Linked DNA regions of Homo sapiens. The protein of the gene in region 2 purifies or fractionates together with the protein of the main gene of each other region. This does not show direct contact. Each region holds a gene or a part of one and is shown on either strand. Other genes may lie near its edges. The genes, in order: POMK, SLC47A1 and TCTN2.

The links.
Region 1: the proteins of SLC47A1 (region 2) and POMK purify together in Homo sapiens (affinity purification with mass spectrometry; 3 studies listed by BioGRID and IntAct, with this or other methods). This does not show direct contact.
Region 3: the proteins of SLC47A1 (region 2) and TCTN2 purify together in Homo sapiens (affinity purification with mass spectrometry; 3 studies listed by BioGRID and IntAct, with this or other methods). This does not show direct contact.

Annotation. Positions count from the first base shown.
Region 1 is NC_000008.11:43,089,356-43,096,527, reverse strand, and holds the start of POMK (protein O-mannose kinase), read right to left. Parts: upstream 3,014-7,172; 5' UTR 2,965-3,013; intron 1-2,964. UniProt on the Homo sapiens protein: Protein O-mannose kinase that specifically mediates phosphorylation at the 6-position of an O-mannose of the trisaccharide (N-acetylgalactosamine (GalNAc)-beta-1,3-N-acetylglucosamine (GlcNAc)-beta-1,4-mannose) to generate phosphorylated O-mannosyl trisaccharide (N-acetylgalactosamine-beta-1,3-N-acetylglucosamine-beta-1,4-(phosphate-6-)mannose).
Region 2 is NC_000017.11:19,564,836-19,571,939, reverse strand, and holds part of SLC47A1 (multidrug and toxin extrusion protein 1), read right to left. Parts: intron 5,151-7,104; coding exon 5,081-5,150; intron 4,845-5,080; coding exon 4,712-4,844; intron 1,096-4,711; exon of another isoform or gene 463-1,095; coding exon 368-462; intron 1-367.
Region 3 is NC_000012.12:123,666,250-123,674,180, reverse strand, and holds the start of TCTN2 (tectonic-2 isoform 1 precursor), read right to left. Parts: upstream 3,069-7,931; 5' UTR 2,941-3,068; coding exon 2,859-2,940; intron 2,675-2,858; coding exon 2,567-2,674; intron 2,126-2,566; coding exon 2,049-2,125; intron 567-2,048; coding exon 371-566; intron 1-370.

The DNA.
Region 1 (7,172 bases), on a different chromosome or scaffold from region 2:
GCCACCATGCCCAGCTAATTTTAGTATTTTAATAGAGACGGAGTTTCACTATGTTGGCCAGATGGTCTCAATCTCCTGACCTCGTGATCCGCCCACCTTGGCTTCCCAAAGTGCTGGGATTACAGGCATGAGCCACCATGTCCGGCCCATGCAGGGAGAGCTTTCTAAAGCACGGATCTGATCCCACCTTGCTTAACATTCAACAGCCCCCCACTCGGCCCACAGGATCAAGTCCAAACTCTTATGTGGCCTCCTGAAATCTAGCCCCTATCTGCTTCCCTAAACCCTCCCTGCACCACACTCTCTGGCCCCTGAGCTTTCCTCAAAGGCTCCCTTTCTGGGATACCCAGGCCCCGGCTTCCTCTAGATTCTGAGCACCAAGAAGCCTGCCTGCCTGTCCTGTTCACCACTGCACCCCAGTGCCTGGCACACAGCGGGTACTCGGCAAAGACGCACCAACTGCCTGGTCACTCTGCACCTCTCCCTCTTCATGGCCTCAGCCGCACAGGCTGCTTTCCCTCTCCTGTGTTCGCTCCACGGAATCCGCTCTTCCTCTCCTCACGGCTCCTGTCTTCTGAGGACCCTCATCTGCCACCTCCTTCTCCAATCCAAGTTTCCCAGCTCAAACCCTGCGATAAATCCTTTCAACCCTCCAACCCTCCTTACCCCTAACCTCCCACCAATCCTTCCTTGCCACTAGTGGATTCAGGTTTTATGGGGCCTGAAGCTTATACAAGTTGGGGCAAGGAGTGGTAATTCCTTAAGAGAAGAATAGTTATGAATGTAAAAGTGCTGAGCCTCTTGCCAGAGTTTTGGCAAGAGGATTTGTGCAAGGTTTTGGAAGGTATTTGTGCAAGTGAAGAGGCTAGAGGCTTCATCATAAACCCAGATCTGCTTGTCATTCACCAGACCCATGTAACTTGCCCTGTCCACTTCTTCATTTCCACTCAAAGGCTGCCAACATCAGCTACAAAACTCTGTGGGACTCTAGAAATGCATATTTTCTAATCTCTCTTGGACCCTCAGCATTACTCAGAAAACCTTTAATGCATTTCTTGCTGAATCCAAATTTCATATGCCCCAAAAACCTTTTATATATCCCTAAGTCCTCACATTCACTTCTGAATCCTCTCTCGGCAAAAACAAACCAAACCAAACCAAAACAAAACAAATAAAAAAAATACCCCAAAATTCATTTGACTTTTATACACTGTCAACTTCACACCAATTCTGTGAAGTGGATGTAATTGTTGTTATTCCCATTTCACAGATAAGACAACTGAGTCAGAGGTGAAGTAATATATCTAAGGTCACTGAACTATACACAGAAGAGCCAAGTTTTCTGGCCTCAAGCCCATTCTTCCCCTAAATACCGCAATGCTCGGGAGTTGAACTAAATCAAACCCAGCGTGGTCAGCTAGGGGCTGGGCTGGGGTACCCTGGGACTGCCGGTTTCTTAAAGAAGACTTCAGCCCACCTCAACCCCGATTTGCTTTTTTGTTTCACAGGCATATTCTGGAGTAGGCCGCCCAGAGCATAGCATGAGGCTGTGTGGCTAAAGGAACTTTCGTGTCCAGAAGTAAGCAAAAACCACTGAAATTTACTGGTCCTGAAAACAGCCTGCACATTAAGGAATAAAGATGGTGGGGCAGGTTGGGCAGAAGAAATTCAGGCACGACTGAAATGCAAAGCATTTCTGACACTGATAGGAAGGCTTATTGATAGAGAAAGGCTTGGGACCCACTGCTCCACATTTACAGCTTAAAAAGAAAAGAAAAGCAAAGGGACAAAACTAGTTTTTACCGACTTACAAGATATTTTCTACAACTAGGGAAGACACAGAGTAATGTCATCCAATACAGTTTAGAGTAGAATTCCATTGCGCCAATAAAGCACAAGGTACATTAAGAGGATTATTTTAAATATTCTGAACGCTTATTTAGCCTTAAGGTTCTATAGCAAAGGCAAAGGGTGGCAAAGACAAGATTATGCAACAAAACAGCGAAATTTTGCTTTCTAAAAAAAAGAGAATATGATTACACTTAACACCTCCTGGCAACAATGATCTCGTGCAGAATAAACACCCAAAGGCAAAGAGCTGAGACAGAGTCCTCGGTCCTTTCTGGTTTTTTTGTTTTTTGTTTTGTTTTGGTTTGGTTTGGTTTTTGTTTTTTTAAACAGAGACAGCCTCTGCCGGACCCAGTAGCTCACGCCTGTAATCCCAGCACTTTGGGAGGCAGAGGCGGGCGGATCACCTGAGGTCAGGCGTTCGAGACCAGCCTGACCAACATGGGGAAACCCCGTTTCTACTAAAAATACAAAAATTAGCCGGGCGTGGTGGCGGACGCCTGTAATCCCAGGAGCCAAGACCGCGCCACTACACTCCAGCCTGGGCGACAGAGCGAGACTCCGTCTCAAATAATAATAATAATGATAAAGTAATAATAATAGAAACAGCCTCTCACTCTGGCCCCCAGGCTGAAGTGCAGTGGCGCGATTTCGGCTCACTGAAACCTCCGCCCCCGCCGGGTTCAAGCATTCTCCCGCCTCAGCCTCCGGAGTAGATAAGACTATAGGCGGCGCCACCGCGCCCGGCTAAGTGCTTTTTTACGGAGACAGAAGTTCCGCCATGTTGCCCAGGCTGCTCTCGCCTGAGCTCACGCGATCCTCCCGCCTCGGCCTCCCAAAGCGCTGGGATTACAGGCTGGAGCCACCTCGCCGGGCCCTTCTCTGGTTCTTTAACGTCCCGCTACCGCGCAGGGGTGGACGCGGAGATAGGGGCTGGGCGCGGTGGACACGGCCGCTCAGGCCCAGCGCAGCCTCCTAGGGAGCCTCCGGACAGGCCGCGGGCAGGCGGCCGGGGCTGCGGGGGGTGCGGCCCAGGCCACGTACAGGGTCCCCCGGGAAACCCAGCTGCACGCCCCCTCGCCCCTTCGCCCTCTCACCCCTCGCCGCAGCACCTACCTGCAGCCCAAGCCTCTGCGGCTCCTGCCACCCCGGGCCAGCACGCACTGGGCCTACTGCGCTTGCGCGTTCGGAAGCGCGTCCTGGGCGGGTGAGCGTGGCGCTGCTGCCCCCTGGCGTCCTCCTCCGGCCGTGCACTGAAGCCGGAGCGAACGCCGCGGCGGTACCAGCGCGCACCTACCCAGTCTCCCTGTCTGGCTTCTGCTTCCCTAACTTGGGAGAACGATTTTGTGTTGACCGACTATTGCTTCAGCCTGGAGCCAGGCTCATGCAGAGCAGCTGTCAGATCTAGACGCACTGCGAGGCCTTCCAAAGCGTAGTCCTCAGACCCGCGGCATCTGCAGGGACCTTGCTGGAAAGGCTGATTCCCAGCTCCGGCCCAGACCCGCCACTCGGGGACCCAGATGCCTGAAGTTGGACAATCGCTCTGTAAAAGAAACTGTGGGGCTTAGCCTAGACGCAGTAAAGCTGAGCTGCACACATCAAGCGCAGCAGACAAGACCTTGGCAAGCCTCCGCGGAGGGGCAGGACTGGGCAAAGGCGGGGAAGTCCGTCGAGGGCCGGCCAGGAGCCCTGCCGGGAGCCCAACACGCACTCGGGCGCTTGCTCCGGGAAACCGAAAGGGAGGCTTGCAGCATCGAAGTCAGCTGGGTCATGGAACGTCTAGGTTGTGTACATCGGAAGCGTTAGCTGCTTCTACACTGACACACTGCGAAAGTCCAGAATCAAGACAGTAACATGGTGTGGGTTAAAAAAACTGAGCCGGTACTAGCTATCCAAACAGTATTAAAATTAACAGAAACGTTTGCCTATCACATGGACAAACAGCGGTAATACCTCCTGTCGTTACAGTAGAGTCTGAAAGTTTCCTCACACATACAAGTGAGTGTAAATTGGAATTCCTCCTACGTGCCCTAGCAAATCCATTTCTAGGAATTTATCCTTCAGAAATAACGTCTGTGGCCGGGCGCCGTGGCTCATGCCTGTAATCCCAGGACTTTGGGAGGCCGAGGTGGGCGGATCACGAGGTCAGGAGACCGAGACCATCCTGGATAACACGGTGAAACCCCGTCTCTACTAAAAATACAAAAAATTAGCCGGGCATGGTGGCGGGCGTGAGAATGGCGTGAACCCGGGAGGCGGAGCTTGCAGTGAGCCGAGATCGCGCCACTGTACTCCAGCCTGGGTGACAGAGCGAGACTCCGTCTCAAAAAAAAAAAAAAAAAAAAAGAAAAAGAAATAATATGTCTGCAAGATGTATGCACAAGAGATCTTGCTGAAGCATTGCTGATAAAAGATATTTATAATAGAGAAAAAAAGAAACCTGAATGTATAACAATAGGGGTTTCTGAAAGAAATTATATTACATCCACATAGCCATGAAAAATACTAACGGGTGCACAGTTTCAGTGTGAGAAGATGGTAAAGTCCTGGAGATGGATGGGGGTGATGGTTGCACAACAGTGTGAATATACACCAATAAATTGGGTGGAGGCCGAGAGCTCGGGGCCGTGAGCAAGCCTCCAACGCTCCGGTCCCCCGGACCCGCCTTTTAAACTCTTATTCTAATTCCTTTGTCTTCGCTGGACTCGGGGTACCCGCCGGGTGGTGTGGGGCTGGTTTCCCCAACAACTTCACTCTAGCCTGGGCAAAAGAGCAAAGCTCCGTCTCAAACAAACAAAGATAGAAACCAACCAGCAGCTCTCCTTGCTGAGTTCTTTGCCACGTGGCCACCATTTTGTGCCCACAGGCTTTTTGGGGGTGCTGGGAAAAGGTGAAATTTTAACACTGATGAAAAATTAGAGGAATTAAATTCAAACAAAAAATTAAAAATAAAAAGAACAGCAGAATTTGACGCACCATCAAACTGGTTGTGTCACCCATCTTCAAGCTGAAGGTAGTCCAAAGCCTGGAACTGAGTGTCGGGGGCACACACAGAGACTCGGGAGAAACCCTCTGATTCTGGCTCGTGGAGCAGAAAAGGAAACTCCTAACCCTCAGAGGGAGTGAAGAAAATTCCCTGTTCTTTCTATTTTCTTCTTTTCTTTGCACTCCAGCCCCCAGTCAAGCCCAAGGCCAGAGCAAAAAGCTTCAGCAGCCAAAAGTCTGAGGGAAAGAGATAGTCCTTTCCATTCAGTAGCACTGCAGCTCCAAGAGGACAGACACAAACTTGGTGTTTTGTTGTTTTTAACTGTTTCCCACTGCTGTGGCACAATTGTGGAAGTGGGCAGCTCCCCCAAGCCAAACTGAAAGTGGGAAGTTTCAGACCAGCGCACTGAAACCTGAGGGAACCTAAAAACACTGAGAAGATAGCGGAAGGTGAGAGCATCTGGCAAGCAACCTCACAGAGTTGTTTTTGAACTCTTGGGCTCATCGCTGACCTGCGTATCATCGACTTAACGAGCACACCAAACACTCAGAGAACTGTGCTCATGAACAGATTTTTGTTCAGGTACCAAACTACGGGAGGATGCAGCCACGAGACAGATCCAAATAGCCCCACAGAGGGTATGAACACAGAACTCACTTTGGAACATGAACCCCAGAAGAAGATCGGAACCTGCAGGCTGTCCCTAACTAGTTCATGTGCTTGCTTAAATTAAACTGTTGGCCAGGCGCGGTAGCTCACACCTGTAATCCCAGCACTTAGGGAGGGCAGATCACCTGAGGTTAGGAGTTTGAGACCAGCCTGGTAAACATGGTGGAACCCGGTCTCTACTTAAAAAAAAAAAAAAAAAAAAAATAGCCGGGCATGGTGGCGGATGCCTGTAATCCCAACTGCCCGGAAGGTTGAGGCACAAGAATCACTTGAACCCAGGAGGCAGAGGTTTCAGTGAGCCCAGATCACAGCACTGCACTCTAGCCTGAGTGACAGAGCAAGACTCCTTCTCAAAAAAAAAAAATTAAAATGCCAACATTCTCCATAGGATTTAAACAAGAATTAGAGCCTCATAATATTCAAAATGCTCAGGATACAAAATTGCTAGGCATATGAACCATCACAAAAATCTCAACTTGCATGGGAAAAGATAATCAAGAGTCACCAACTATAAAATGACTGTTAGGATTATCTGAAAAAGACATTAGTTATGAAAATGCTCAAAAAATTATAAACATTCTTGAAACAAAAGTTAAAATAGAAAGTATGGGGCTGGGCACAGTGGCTCGCGCCTGTAATCCCAAGACTTTGAGAGGCTGAGGCAGGCGAATCACTTGAGATCAGGAGTTCGAGACCAGCCTGGCTAACATGGTGAAACCCTGTCTCTATTAAAAATACAAAAATTAGCCGGACATGGTGGCAGGTGCACTCAGGAGGCTGAGGCAGGAGAATCGCTTGTACCTGGGAGGTGGAGGTTGCAGTGAGCCGAGATCGTGCCATTGTACTCCAGCCTGGGCCACCGAGCGAGACTCTGTCTCAAACAAATAAAAAATAATAATTTTAAAAAAGAAAGTATGAGTAAAAAACTTGGAGAAAGTAAGAGGAACCAAATAAACATTTAAAATAGAAAAGTACAATAATCAAATTTTAAAACTCACTGGATAGATTCAATGGCAGAATGGAAATGACAGAGGAGTCAGTGAACATGAAGACAGATTAATAGAAATTATCCAAACTGACCAACAGAGAGGAGGGGAAAATTAATAAAACTTCAAGCACCTGTGGGACATAACAAAAGGTCTAATATTTATGCCATCAGAATCCCAAAGCAGATGAGAAAGAAAGCACTAAAAAGCTTTTGAAGAAATAATGGCTGAAAACTTCCCAAGTTTGGGAAAGAAACACCAACCTACAGATTCAAAAAACTGAGCAAACCCCAAATGCAATAAATCCAAAGACATCCATGCCCAGACACATCAAAATCAAACTGCTGAAAAATAAAGACAAGGAAAAAAAATTGAAAACAGCCAAAGAGAAATGCCACGAGCTGTAGGTGACCCACAATCCTAATGACAGTGAATTTATCCTCTGAGATCATGAAGACCAAAGTGGCACAACGTTTTTCAAGTGCTGAAAGAAAAGAATTGCAAGCCCAGAATTCCATATGCAGTGAAAACATCCTTCAGGAATAACCTTGAAATAAACTAAGATGAAGGAAAACTAAGAGAATTTGTAGCCTGCAGACCTACTCTAACAGAACTGCTAAAAGAGTTCTTTGGTGGCTCAAGCCTGTAATCCCAGCACTTTGGGAGGCTGAGGCGGGCAGATC
Region 2 (7,104 bases):
CACACAAGTATCTTAACAAAACATTTGGAGACCATAAAAACAACATCAGGATGACTTTGATGCATCCCACATTTCTCTCCAGTTCTAATTCTTGTCCTGAAATTGGATTTTCCTGCACAAGGGTGACAGCCTGGCATGGGAGACAAGGAAGAAAGGAGTCCCCTGTTTTTCTGGGAATAGATAAAGCCAGGATCATCTGGCCCTTCACATCTGAACTGTCTAGTTAAAACAACAAGAACAATAGTATTCATGAGATAAGAATAAAGAAAATGAGAAAAGAACTTTCCAAAAGAAAAAAGGGAGAGCCAGATCAGATCCTGTTTTTCTAGGAGAGGAACCTTTACCGGGACAGAATGAACATAGTTACCTGCTGACAGGCTTTTTTCCAATTTAGCTGAATAATAAAGCCTAGAAAACACACAGCTTGAAAGACTGTACAGATGATGATCCCTGACCACAGACCTAGAAATAGAAATATTTAATAGAGGTTAATTCCATAGAAAACCAGCTGCCCCTGGGGAGTATGTTTTGCCTATATCACTTCTGTCAGCCATACTGAATATCTGCTTTCATGGCTGAGGTGGAGCCCACAGCGGGCCAGAGACCTCTATCCTGCTCCTCCTCAGGCTTCCAGAAGGTTCCAGAAGGTTCTGGAAAGCCCAGTACTCCTTGAGGCCACCCCCAAAAGGGCCATCTCTTTTGGTTCAGGATTTCGGAACAAATATTCAGAGGATATTTTTGGCCTTACTGATTATAATGCTTGAATATTAAGAAAAATGCCAGTTATAAGGAAATTAAAATTTCCCAGGACCAACTACTTCTGCCCTGGTTTCCTCAAAAAAGGGGACTAACATTAAAAAAAAAAAAAGCAGAAATCACTAGCCATATAAACTACTAATGTTCTCTTCCTCAGAGTTCCTGCCAGACCTTGGACCTTAACTTGCTTCTGACACAGACTTTGCTAGAAGCTTCCAGAGCAGGGCTGAGCACCTACAGATGACTGGAGAACACCAAAGGCAGGCCAGGTGGGAATGGATGGCGGGAAAAGCCCTGTGAATCTCAAGGCACCACACAGGGCACAGAGGGAGACCCCAGGTGAGGAGGGTTTTTTGGTCAACAGTAAACTAATGGCAGAACCAAAAGCTCCAACAATAACCAAGAGACAAAGTCCTGACCGTAATAAAAACAGACCTCTGCCTCACAACCTGCAGCACCCTGCCCAAGAAACCCCACCCCATCTACAATAAACCCAGGAAGCCAGCCTTCCCTAAATCAGACTTGCAGGAAGCAAGATCGCTGCCTTTGGTAACAATCCAGGAAGCTAACCAGTAACTTCTGTAACGATTGGCCCCAGATGGCCAGGACTTGATTAGCAACTGACAGCTTGCCTAATTTTGGTCTGCACTTCCAACTTAGGACCAACCAGAGAAAGTAAAATACATCCCCCTAACCAATCACATGGGAGGCCCATTTCTAGTCAGCCACCTCCAGCATCCCCCAGATCAACAATCTCCACTCAGGACACACCTGCAGCCTCCCCTTTTATCCACTGTGACGCTTTCCCACTCCTTTGCCTGCCTTTGAGTTTCTGCCCAAATGCAAGTGGTGGCAGCCAACACCCTTGCTGAGAATACACAGACTTTGCTTGTCTTGCTTGGTTGGTCCTGGTTTATTTCCACAGCTGTCCAGATCTATGTAAGGGTTAAGGTGGCTAGTCTGGGTTCCTGGTTTATGGATTCGGTACAGGTTTTACAGCTCTGTTTCTTGGTACCAATCACATTTTTCAGGTATGATCAGCCTGCCCTTTTGTTTGTTTGTTTGCTTTTTAGAGTCAGGGTCTTGCTCTGTTGCCCAGGCTGGAGAGCAGTGGCATGACCACAGCTCACTACAGCCTCCAACTCCTAGAGTCAAGTGATCCTCCTGCCTTGGCTTCCAAAGCACTAGGATTATAGGTATGAGTCACTACGCCCAGCCTAGCCTGCTCTTAGAATAGTATAGTTGGTGCCACCTGCTAGTCCTATAAAAAATTAGTAAAAGCAAGCTACTGGCTTCCTCTTTCAAATCCAGTGTTCTCAGTACATAGAAACTACAAGCTCACCTGAACCACCTTAAACAGGAAATAACCAGCTAACTCCAGCTATAATTTGAAAGTTATGAATTAGATTTCCAATAATTTTAGCATACATCATTTAAAAGATTTCTATTTGACCCAACCTATGAGCCCAAAGTGGGATGATTATTAGATCTCATGGGCAAGGCCCAGGAATTTACATATTTAAAATGTCTCCCAGGGATTCTGAGGGTCATTATGATTTCCTGAGGTTGCTTCTGAGAACCTGCAGAATTCTGATGCTCTCCTAGACACCTTGTATAGGTATACTGCATACCATACCAGGAGACACAATACTCAAAACCAATTCGTACCACAATTTCTTCTAATAGGTGGGTGGGGGGGATTGACTATAGGCTTCTCATAGAGCCCTCACATCCCCAGGGCCCCCACCATTTCTTTTCAGTGATTCTCAACTTCCTCTTCTACTTTGCACAATTAGTTACGCTTTTTTTTTTTAAGGTAGAGTCTCACTCTGTCGCCCAGGCTGGAGTGCAGTGGTGCCATCTTGCTCACTGCAGCCTCCGCCTCCCGGGTTCAAGCAATTCTTGTGCCTCAGCCTCCCAAGTAGCTGGAACTACAGGCGCACACCACCACACCTGGCTAATTTTTGTATTTTTAGTAGAGACGGGGTTTCGCCAAGTTGCCCAGGTTGGTCTCAAACTCTTAACCTCAAGTGAACCACCCACCTCAGCCTCCCAAAGTGCTGGAATTACAGGCATGAGCCACTGTGCCTGGCCTAGATATATTCTGTTAAATGAATAGGTGAGCCAAGGACGGCACTTGGGATACAGATGGATTTATATTTCAAAGCAGGTTCCTCATGCCTGTAATCCCAGATACTTGGGAGGCCAAGGTGGGAGGATCACTTGAGTCAAGGAGTTTGAGACCAGCCTGGGCAACATAGCAAGACCCCATCTGTAAAAAATGAAACAGGAGAATAAAGTAGACTCCTCTTCTAAAAAAGTTGAACTCATAGAAGTAGAGAGTAGAATGATGGTTAGCAGGGACTGGTGGCAAGGAGGGGAGGGCATGGGAATGGGGAGTTGTTAAGGTACAAATTTCTGATAGACAGGAAGAATAAGTTTTGAGATCAATTGCACACCAGGGTGACTGTAGTCAATGTACTGCACATTTTGAATTAACTAAGTAAATTTCAAATGTCTCACCATAAAAAATAAGTGGTGATAAGTATGTTAATTAGCTTAATTTAATCATTCCACATTTTATACATATATCAAAACACCACACTGTACCCCATAAATGTATACAACTATAATTTGTCAATTTAAAGTTTAAAAGATATAATATAGAGAATTTAAATTATTTCCTTAATATTTTATACTGATTGCACGTTGCAATAATTTTAGACATATTGTGTTACATAAAATACATTACTTTAAAAATAAAAATAAATTAGATTTCTATAATATTTGCATTAGCTAGGCAATTGGCAAATCCAAACTATGAATCGCACCAGAAACTCAGCTAAATAATTTTCTGCACTATCATGCAAGCCCAATGAACTTTGCATTGGCAATACTATTCTTTGAACAACTCCTGTATTTTTAATTAAAATATTATTGAACTTGAGAAAAATGTGCCACATAAAGGAACATACTGAACTGGAAGTTCCCTGTAGGTATCAGTTGACTTCTCACCACCTCTGAGCCTGCCAAGTACAGATGAATCAAAACAAGCCACGCTTTAAGTCAGTCACTACTCACCCCAAAGATAAATGTCCAGGTTTTCATATCATCATTTATTAACTGCCAATATGTTCCAAATTATTATTTTAGAAATCAAAGCTGGGCAGTCATTTATTTCCGTACTTTTTAAAAAGATTAGCTCTGGTAATTTCAGATGCTGTGGATTAAGTTTTTTCTTCCAAATGTGGGAAGGTGCTCAAGTCCGCCCCCTTCCTTCTGTGCTGTTCACACCGACCACGTGTATGGCCTTGTGGGGAGCTCTGTGGGGGCACAGAGCTAAGGCTGCACAAGGAGGGAGGTGGAGGCTGCGGAGTGCGATGAGGGTGATGAGAAGGGCACTGGCCACCCATTGCCCTCCAAGGATCCAGCCATGCTGCTTGGTGAGCACATGGGGCACTGCTCTAGGATGCAGAGTGCCACCGTGAGTGCAGACCCTGCAGCACCCCACGCACGCAGGACCGCCTACGATAGCCCTGGCCCTGCAGAGTCACCCTCAGGGGCTCACATGCTGTCTCTAAAGAACAGCACGAAACACACTAAGGGGATGCTTCCAAATGCTTCTTCAGCGGTCCCTGCTGTTGCCTCCTTTAGAGAAGTGAGGGCTGGATGACTCAGGATAGGAGGTTGGTAGAAAGGGCATCTGTGCTCAAGTGTGTCAGCGTGGAAGATCGCCCGCAGGGGTGTGAGGGGCAGGACCACATAGCCTTGGGGCCCTGGCTAGAGCTGGAGGTCACCTCCTGAACGCCCCCTACACTCTCTGACAAGACACAGAATGGACGTGGGCGAGCTCCCGAGTTTCAGAGGTGAGCCTCAGTCAAAGACCCGTGTGCTCCGACGGTCATTTCCTGGGCTGGTGAGCAGCTAAGCCCTGCCTGCAGAGGTTAGAGCTTACCCATCACTCCAAGTGTGGTTGCAAACATCAGCGCGATCCCGATGGGGAGGCCAACCACATAGTACCCAATGGTATTCACAATGGCTCCAACCTTCTGATTTCCACTCCCCCTCAGAACACCACCACTCGTGCACTGCAGGCAGAGAGCATTCCATCACTGTGAACACATCCGGCGCTCTTGAAACACTCCCATCTCCCGAGCACTTCATATTCTGTGCTAAAATCCATGGTAAGGTGACAGTATCCTTCTAAACGAAATGTGGTAACAATATTCAATCTTCCTACCTATGCTGGCCCCTCCTCTCAGCTGAAATTTACCACCATCAGAAGATCATAACAGTGCTTAGGGGACTACTACATAATACTTACAGCAAGAGCTTCAAAGAGGTGGGAAACAGCATAAATTGGAACCACCTGAGCCACCAGATTAATGATGTCTCTGTTAGGAAAATAAAGCACGTGGTGATTAGGAGACAAAGTGGAGAAAGAAGTATATAGCTTTCTGGCTAGGCGCAGTGGCTCATGCCTGTAATCTCAGCACTTTGGGAGGCTGAGGCGGGAGGATCACCTGAGGTCAGGAGTTTGAGACCAGCCTGGCCAACATGGTGAAACCCCGTATCTACTAAAAATATAAAATTAGCCAGGCCTGGTGGTGGGTACCTGTAATCCCAGCTACTCAGGAGGCTGAGGCAGGAGAATCGCTTGAACCCGGGAGGCAGAGGTTGCAGTGAGCTGAGATCTCATCACTGCACTTCAGCCTGAATGACAGAGCGAGACTGTCTTAAAAAAAAAAGTATATAGCTTTCTGCATATTACAGACATGCACATGCATTGAGGCCAGCAGCCTAGTCAGGGACAGTTCACCTGTTGCTGGGTCCATAGAGGAAACTAACTGCATGTTGTATCTCACAGCTTTTAGAAAAAATAGGCAGCACCACACCCTTGTCTTCAAGAGATATGTTTCAAGTCCCCCAGTGGATGCCTGAAATCGCAGAGAGGACTGAACCCTAAATACATTGTGTTTTCCTTATACACAAATACATTATGATAATGTTAATTCATAATTTGGGCACAGTAAGAGAGTAACAACAGTAGTAATAAAGTAGGCCATAACCACATGCCAGCATCACTACTTTTGTGCTTTGGGATTACTAGCACTGTGATACCAAAACAGTCAATCTGAAATAACTAGCGGGTGGAAAGCACACACAGCGTGGAGATGTTGGACAAAGGGATGATTTCATGTCCCAGGCGGGACGTGAGATTTCCTCCTAATACTCATAACCGCACGCAATTGAAAACTTATGAATTGTTTATTTCTGGAATTTTCCACTTAAGATTTTCAGACCACCAGGCACGGTGGCTCACGCCTGTAATTCCAGCACTTTGGGAGGCCGAGGCGGGCGGATCACAAGGTCAGGAGATCGAGACCATCCTGGCTAACATGGTGAAACCCCGTCTCTACTAAAAATACAAAAAAATTAGCCGGGCGTGGTGGCGGGCGCCTGTAGTCCCAGCTGCTGGGGAGGCTGAGACAGGAGAATGGCGTGAACCTGGGAGGCAGAGCTCGCAGTGAGCTGAGATCATGCCACTGCACTCCAGCCTGGGCGACAGAGCGAGAGTCCATCTCAAAAAAAAAAAAAAAAAAAAAGATTTTCAGACCAAAATTGACTGCAGGTGACTAAACCTTGGAAAGCAAAACCAAGGATAAAGAGGGGTTACCGCATAGTCCATCTGGTCAGTGTAGACAAATCAAGGGATTTGGTGACATCCCTCCCCCGTTCCCCATCAGCTGAAAAGAAGTTTGGCTGGGCACAGTGGCACGCACCTATCATCCCGGCAAGTTTGGATGCTATGATCATCCTTCTTTTAAGATGATGCCACAGGCCAAGTCTGACTGTGTCTCCTAGTAAGCCTCAGTGAAGCACTACAGAGTAAAAATTAAGTTCCCTCTATGGAACGAAGGTTGGTAAAGGCCATAGATATATTCTGCAGAATTATCCTTGGTTCCTAGAAATGGAACCCCTAAAGCTAGAGACTTGGATTCTAACCTCTGCATGTGAAGGGAGATGAGAAAAATGCTGCCCTGACCTGGGGAAGCAGGAAATTCACAACACCCTTGGAGTGAGTTTTGTCACTCTAAACTAGAACCTAGAAGACTGTCTCCCAATAAATACTTGTTTAATTACTAAATAAGAAATCCAGCACTGGCCCAGGAGTGGTGGCTCATGCCTGTAATCCCTGCACTTTGGGAGGCCAAGGCAGGCAGATCACCTGAGGTGGTGAGTTCGAGACCAGCCTGACCAACATGGAGAACTCCCATCTCTTCTAAAAATACAAAATTAGCAGGTGTGGTGGTGCATGCCTGTAATCCCAGCTACTCGGGAGGCTGA
Region 3 (7,931 bases), on a different chromosome or scaffold from region 2:
TTAAATAAAATAGTACAAAATGAAATTTCTTAAAAGAAAACTAAACAAAAGAAAAATAAGTTTAGAAAAGCAAGACAGACTCAAGTGAAGTATACTTTACAAATTGCATGGCATACACTTATAATCAAACAGGTAAGCTTGACACAAATTTTTCTTTTTTTGTTTTTGTTTTTGGTTTTTTTTGAGACAGGGTCCCACTCTGTCACCCTGGCTGGAACGCAGTGGCGCGATCACAGCTCATTTGTAGCATTAACCTCCCGGGCAGCTCATTTATAGCATCAACCTCCCGGGCTCAAGCAATCCTCCTACCTCTTCCTCCTAAGTAGCTGGGAACAACATGAAAGTTTTGACAGTCAAAGACTTCACTTGCCTGAGGCATTATGGGTCAGAGAAGAGTTGGCATAAATTTCCACTTGAATGAGTAGATGTGCTGAACAGGATGAATTATGAGATGCTGAAACCAGAAGGGTCTGGAGGATACAGGGGGACTCTGAGAAGGAATCTGTCTCATTGGAGGAACACCAGTCCAGACCTCTCTTCCACCTCACTGTCACTTCCAACACCTTCTGAAAGGAAAACATTGCTGTATTTTTAAAGTGACTCAAAACAGGGTCTATAAGAATACATAATGGAAAACACAATAAAAGTACACATCAGCCTCCGTTCATTTTATAAAAGGGAAATGTATACAGAGATGACACAGTTATCTTCAGTTCCCCCCCATAAACCTATGGTAACATGCAAGCCCTGATTCTTCTTCCTTAACATAAAAGCAAACAACTTCGGGATACTTAGAGAAAGCTAAACACAGATCTGATAAATAAACTCAGTTTATTGTACACCTTTTTAGTTTCTTTATCATCCTATCAGTGGAAGAGTAAATACACAAAAAAAGTCAATGAAAACAATCCTCAGTTTATCCCAGAATGACTTTAGACATGTACATGTTCACTCCTGGGGTACAAGCAGAGCTTGTCTTTCCTGTCCTTTTCTCTCCAGAATTGATGTTGCATATACTAGGTATCCAATAAACACTTATTAAATAGAAGATGCTTAATCTCTCCAGGTTTGAGTATCCTTACACATAAGCTCAGAGTTGGGCAAGATCAGTGGTTATGAAGCTTTTTTTTTTGAGACGGAGTCTCGCTCATCACCCAAGCTGGAGTGCAGTGGCGTGATCTCGGCTCACTGCAATCTCTGCCTCCCGGGTTCAAGTGATTCTCCTGCCTCAGCCTCCAAAGTAGCTGAGATTACAGGCACCCGCCATCACGCCCAGCTAATTTTTGTATTTTTAGTAGAGATGGGTTTCACCATGTTGGCCAGACTGGTCTTGAACTCCTGACCTCAGATGATCCGCCCTCCTCGGCCTCCCAAAGTGCTAGGATTACAGGCGTGAGCCACCGCGCCTGACCAGCTTTTTCTTTTTTTTTAAGAGACAGGGTCTTGCTCTGTTGCCCAGGCTGGATGAAGTGCAGTGGTGCGATCATAGCTCTCTGCAGCCCTGAACTCCTGGGCTCAAATAATCCTCTTGCCTCAGCTACCCCACCCCCCTCCAAGTATCTGGGACTGTAGGTGTACGCCACCCACCTAATTTTTTTTTTAATTGTTTTGTAGAGACGAGGTCTCGCTATGTTACAGGCTGGTCTGGAACTCCTGGGCTCAAGCAATCCTCCCGCCTCAATCTCCCAAAGCGCTATGAGTACAGGCGTGAGCCACGATGCCTGGCATAAAGCTTTTTTGAATCACTGACCCATTTGATGATCTAAAGGAAACTGGTGACCCTCTCATCAGAAAAATGCACATACACACAGAACTTTACATACAATTTCATAGAGTTCACAGACCCACTGAAATACATCCAAGGACTCCTAACCCCAGGGTAAGGAACCCGTGGGCTGGATAAGTGTCTACCAGATCCAACAGCCCACAATTTCATGATTGTTGAGAGCATGGAGAAAGCCATGCCTTGTTAAATAAAGAGAGCACTGCAGAAACCCTAGCTGGGGGCCTCTTCACAGGCTACAGAGAAGGTTTACTTCTGGCCTTACCGCACCGGGGATCACAGTCACGCTCCAGTCTTCCGTCTCATTGTTCAGCACTCCACACGTCGGAATTGGCAATATTCCTAAAGAAAGAAGACCAGCATGCAAAGGCAGCAAGGTCCAGCAGCTCAGGGGGTGCATTGAGTCAGACTGCCTAGGATGGACTCACATTACAGCCTAAGATTGGGCCCTTTACAAGCTGCTTGACACTGGGACAGTGACAACCTCTCTGAACTTGTTTCTTCCTTGGTCAAAGGGGATGAAAAGATATTACTGTTCTTACTAGGAAAATGGGATGATGCACGATGTTAGCTCAATGAATGCTAACCATTATTATTTCAGGCTTTCTTCGAACCTGTCCGTCTGTCCTCTTTGGCCTACAGCAGCCGCCCGATCCTTTTCTCCCCATGCGACTTTGCAGAGAACAGAGGCAGGGGGCCCCAAGGATGCCACCTCTCCAGGCTCCTTGGGAGGTCTGGATCCAGTCCAACCCCCACCCTCCCCAAAAGAGGGCCGGACTTTACCCGCCTCGTCCTGCAGCACTGCCAGGGACACGGTCACACCCTCGGTGTCTCCGACCAGGGACGCGCTGACCGCAGGGCCGGACATTCGGATAAAAGGAGGGATGAAAGCTAGGCGGGAAGGAAAGGGGACAAGGAGGGGTTAGCAGTGGAAGAATCACCGCCTAAGGTGTGTGTGGCGGCTTGCTTTGGCGTTGTCGACTCCCGAAGCTCCCGGGGGAGTCCAAGTCTGGCCCTTTTAACGCCCAGTCCCCTCAGCCCCGGCCCACCGAGGTCACTGCCGCGCCGTACACACCCAGGTCCCCCCACAGAAGCCTCAGGATGCCCTGCAGAAGGAAAAGCCTCAAAAGAAGAGCGGCCGGAGGCTGGAAGCCCATGCCTTAGACCTCGCGGGCCGGGCACAGCAGAACCGCGCCCTCATTAGAACCCAGGAAGGACTCAGACACGAAAACGCAGCAGCCACTGCCCCGCCGCCGCCATCTTGCAAGCGAACGCCCGGAGCTATGGCAACCACCAATCGGCGGCCGGCCAGGAGGAACGCCGCGCTGTGATTGGACCAGTGGCAAGAGCGGGCACCCCGGCCCCGCCCACAAGGCCTAGCATTTTTGCTGCTTGACTCTGGTGGGGAGAGTGAGGGCTGAAAAACTACCTATCCGGTGCTCCACTTAGTACCTGGGTGACGAAACAATCTGTGCACCCAACCCCCGTGACACGCAATTTACCTATATAGCAACCTGTACATGGACCCCTGGGCCTAAAAGTTGAAAACATCAAAATTAAAAAGGTCCTGAAAAGCAGGAGTGCGTGTCCGGCTCAAAAACTGGAGTTTTCCCCTACCCTGGAATTAATCCAACAATAGCCAAGAGCGATCCTATAGACACTGGCTTCTAAATAAAAAGGGTGGGACTTGCTCCTTAATAAACTTGATTTTTATACGGATTTGTTTTAGGGGTGAGTAGAAAAAGGGGATGGGGCTGCCGCGCTGTGTTTATTATCTTTACTATCGTTTATGATGTATTATTTATATTTTATATTTTTATAAAATAAATATATATTTACAAAATAGATATACTTTGTTTTATATATATATATCAGATATACATACTTGATATATATAAAATACATATAGGCCGGGTCTGGCGGCTCATGCCTGTAATCCCAGCAATTTGGGAGGCCGAGGCGGGCGGATCACAATGTCAGGAGTCTGAGACCAGCCTGATCAACATGGTGAAACCCCGTCTCTACTAAAAATACAAAAAATTAGCCAGGCGTGGTGGCAGGCGCCTATTATCCCAGCTACTCAGGAGGCTGAGGCAGGAGAATTGTATGAATCTGGGAGGCGGAGGTTGCAGTGAGCCGCGATTGCACCACTGCACTCAAACCTGGGCGACAGAGCCAGACTCCGTCTCAAAAATATATTTATTTATTTATTTATCTTATAAAATATATATGTATTTATATTTTATCTTATATATATTTATCTTTTATATAAGTATATATTTTGTAAATTTTATACTTATATGTTATAATTTTATAAAATTTATATTTTTATAATTCTTATCATTATCATTTATTATCACTATTGCTTTTATTATCATTCTCCTAGGTTTTTGAAGGATTTTCTCCCCTGCACAGAGCTCTCAGCACTCTGAAAGCAGATCCAATCACAGAACACACAAGAGGTTTTGCCCAGCAATAGGACAGATGTGAAAGAATCAAAATTCTGTCTGGAAAAAAATTGTTTTTTCTTATATCAGTAGCCTCAGAACATTTCAAATATTGTCACGGCTTGGGGACTGAGAGTGCAGGGTCTGAGGTCAGGCTGCCTGGCATGGGATTTCGCCTTCCCTCCACAGATATTCTCAGCTGTTAAGTGACTTTGGGCAAGTCAACCTCTCTAAGTTTCAGCTTCCTCATCTATAAAAAAGGGATGATAATAATCCTTCCTTGGGGATTGTGTGAGGATGAAATGAGGTAACATATCTAATGAGGTTAAACCAATGGCTGGCATACAGTAAGCACTCAGTTAATGATCAGTTACTTGTTAACTATCAGAGAGGTGGTGTATCCTTTAGCTGAGACAATCATGGTGTTCAGCATTGTGGCTGACTGACGGTAAATGCCAAGTAAATGTTTGCCATTATTAGTCTTTTTTTTTTTTCTTTTTGAGACAGGGTCTCACTCTGTCACCCAGGCTGGAATGGTGCAGTGGCACAATCATAGCTCACTGCATCCTCAAACTTCTGGGCTCAGCTGATCCTCCCACCTCAGCCTCCCAAGTAACTGGCAATACACCACCACACCCGGCTAATTTTTGTATTTTTTATAGAGACGGGGTTTCACCATGTGGCCCAGGCTGGTCTCAAACTCCTGGGCTCAAGTGATCCTCCTGCCTTGGCCTCTAAAAGTGCTGGGATTACAGGTATGGGCCACCGTACCCAGCCCCATTATTACTCTTAATGTTCAGTTATATATTCATTGATCAGCAAATCTAACATTGTGAAAGGATTCTGAAAGTTGAGGCTTTATAAGGGCCTGACACTGGGTGTTATCTTTTTCTTATACTCCCTGAAAAACTGTGGGTCACTACAGTTGTAACATGAGCATGAAACTTTTCCCGTGTACCTCAGCTCCTCTCTGGAAGACTGCAAAATGTTTACCTCTCTTGATATCTTGGAATGAAGCCTAGGAGAACGTTACTAAGAGGAAGCTGTCAAACACTTAAATATTTCTGTTATTCCCCATCTGTCTTTGGGGGGAATTAATCTGCAAATTAAGTTGGCAAGGCCAAGCGGTAAAGATTAAGAGATAAATCCTCCCAAAAGAAAACATTTCTGGGCCGGGCTTGGTGGCTTATGCCTGTAATCCCTGCACTTTGGGTGGCAAAGGCACATGGATCACTTGAGGCCAGGAGTTCAAGACCAACCTGGGCAACACAGAGAAACCCATCTCTACCCAAAAATACAAAAATTATCTGGGCGTGGTGGCGCATGCCCGTACTCCCAGCTACTCGGGAGGCTGAGGCAGGAGAATCGCTTGAACCCAGGGGTCGGATGTTGCAGTGAGCCGAGATCGCGCTACTGCACTCCAGCCTGGGCAACAGAGTGAGACTTCATCTCAAAAAAAAAGATAGAAAACACTTGAAGCTGGTGATCAGCAGCTTCCCGATAAGATCTCAGGAGTTGGGCAAGCAGGCTCATGCATACATAGTAAGAGGCAAGATGGCAGATTTTAACTGGTATATAACCTTCCTCTGGGAAGGCTCGACTGGTAAAGGAAAATGCCTCAAATGAGCATGCGCACAACTTCAGTAAACACACTGCACATGCGGCCCCTCCCAAGTGCTGGCAGGCCACTGACATGCAGACAGCCCACCCCAAGGAAAAATCAAGGGAGGGCACAAACCTCAGAACCATGCTAATGTATAGAAACCCCCAGTGAAGGGTCGGACGGGGCACTTGAATCTCTCAAGTCGCCCGCTTGGCCCTCTTCCAAGTGTACTTTACTTCCTTTCATTCCTGCTCTAAAACTTTTTAATAAACGTTTACCCCTGCTTTAAACTTTGCCTTGGTCTCTCACTCTGCCTTATGCTGCTTGGCCAAATTCTTTCCTCTGAGGAGGCAAGAATCGAGTTGCTGCAGACCTGTACAGACTCGTCACTGCTAACGGTGATCCAGGGAATTCTCCAAGATCGTACCCAAGATCACCAAGGTGGCACCTCTACAAATATGTAAACTATTCATATCTTGAGTAGTAGACTAAAAGGCAAACCTATCAAAAATAATAACTACAGCTTTTTAAGACATAGTATAATAAGATATAAATATTGTAGAAACAAAAAGTTAAAAATCAGAGGGATGAAGTTAGAGTATTAGTTTTCTCTGCTTGTTTTTGCAATCAGAGTTGTCATCAGTTTAAAATAATGGGTTATAAGATGGTATTTGCAAGCCTCATGCTAAACTCATATCAAAAAGCCTACAACAGATACACAAAAATATAAAGCAAGAAATTAAAACATACCACCAGAGAAAATCACTTTCATAAAAAGGAAGATGGAAGGAAGGGAGGAAGGGAAGATCAGAAAACAAATTTAAAAATGGCAGTAGTAAGTCCTTACTTATAAATAATAACATTGAATGTAAATGGACTAAACTCTCCAATCAAAAGACATAGAGTGGCTGAATAGATTTAAAAAAAAAAGACCTAATGATTAGCTGCCTATAAAAACTCTTCACCTATAAAGACACACATAGACTAAAAATAAAGGGATGGAAAAAGATATTCTAATGGAAACCAAAAAAGAGCAAAAGTAGCTATATACTTATATCAGATAAAATAGATTTTAAGACTAGGTGTGATGGCTCATGCCTGTAATCCCAACACTTTGGGAGGCCGAGGCAAGAGGAACCCAGGAGTTGCTTGAGCCCAGGAGTTCAAGACCAGCCTGGACAATACAGCAAGATGCTATCTCCACAGAAAAAGAAAAAAAAGAGGCCAGGCGCAGTGGCTCACACCTGCAATCCGAGCACTTCGGGAGGCCAAGGTGAGTGGATCATCTGAGGTCAGGAGTTCAAGACAAGCCTAGCCAACATGGCGAAAACCCATCTCTATTAAAAATACAAATATTAGGCTGGGCTCGGTGGCTCATGCCTGTAATCCCAGCACTTTGGGAGGCCGAGGTGGGAGGATCACGAGGTCAGGAAACTGAGACCATCCTGGCTAACATGGTGAAACCTCATCTTTACTAAAAATACAAAAAAATTAGCTGGGCATGGTGGCAGGTGCCTGTAGTCCCAGCTACTTGGGAGGCTGAGGCAGGAGAATGGCGTGAACCCGGGAGGCAGAGCTTGCAGTGAGCTGAGAACACACCACTGCACTCCAGCCTGGGCGACAGAGCGAGACTCTGCCTAAAAAAAAAAAAAAAAAAAAATTAGCTGGTCGTGGTGGCAGGTGCCTGTAATTGCAGCTACTCGGGAGACTGAGGTGGGAGAATCACTTGAACCCGGGAGGTGGAGGTTGCAATGAGCTGAGATCATGCCACTGCACTCCATCCTGGGTGACAGAGTGAGACTCTGTCTCAAAAAAAAAAAAAAAAAGTGGTAAAGAAGGTCATTATATAATAAGAGGCTCAGCAAGAGAATATAACTATTGTAAACATATATGCAGCCAATACTGAAGCATTCAGATATATAAAGCAAATATTATTAGGGCTAAAGAAAGAGATAGACCCCAGTACAATAACAGTTGGAGACTTCAACCTCCCACTTTCAGCATTGGACAGATTATCCAGACAGAAAATCAACAAGGAAACATCAGACCTAATTTGCACTATAGACCAAATGGACCTAATAGATATTTATGGAACATT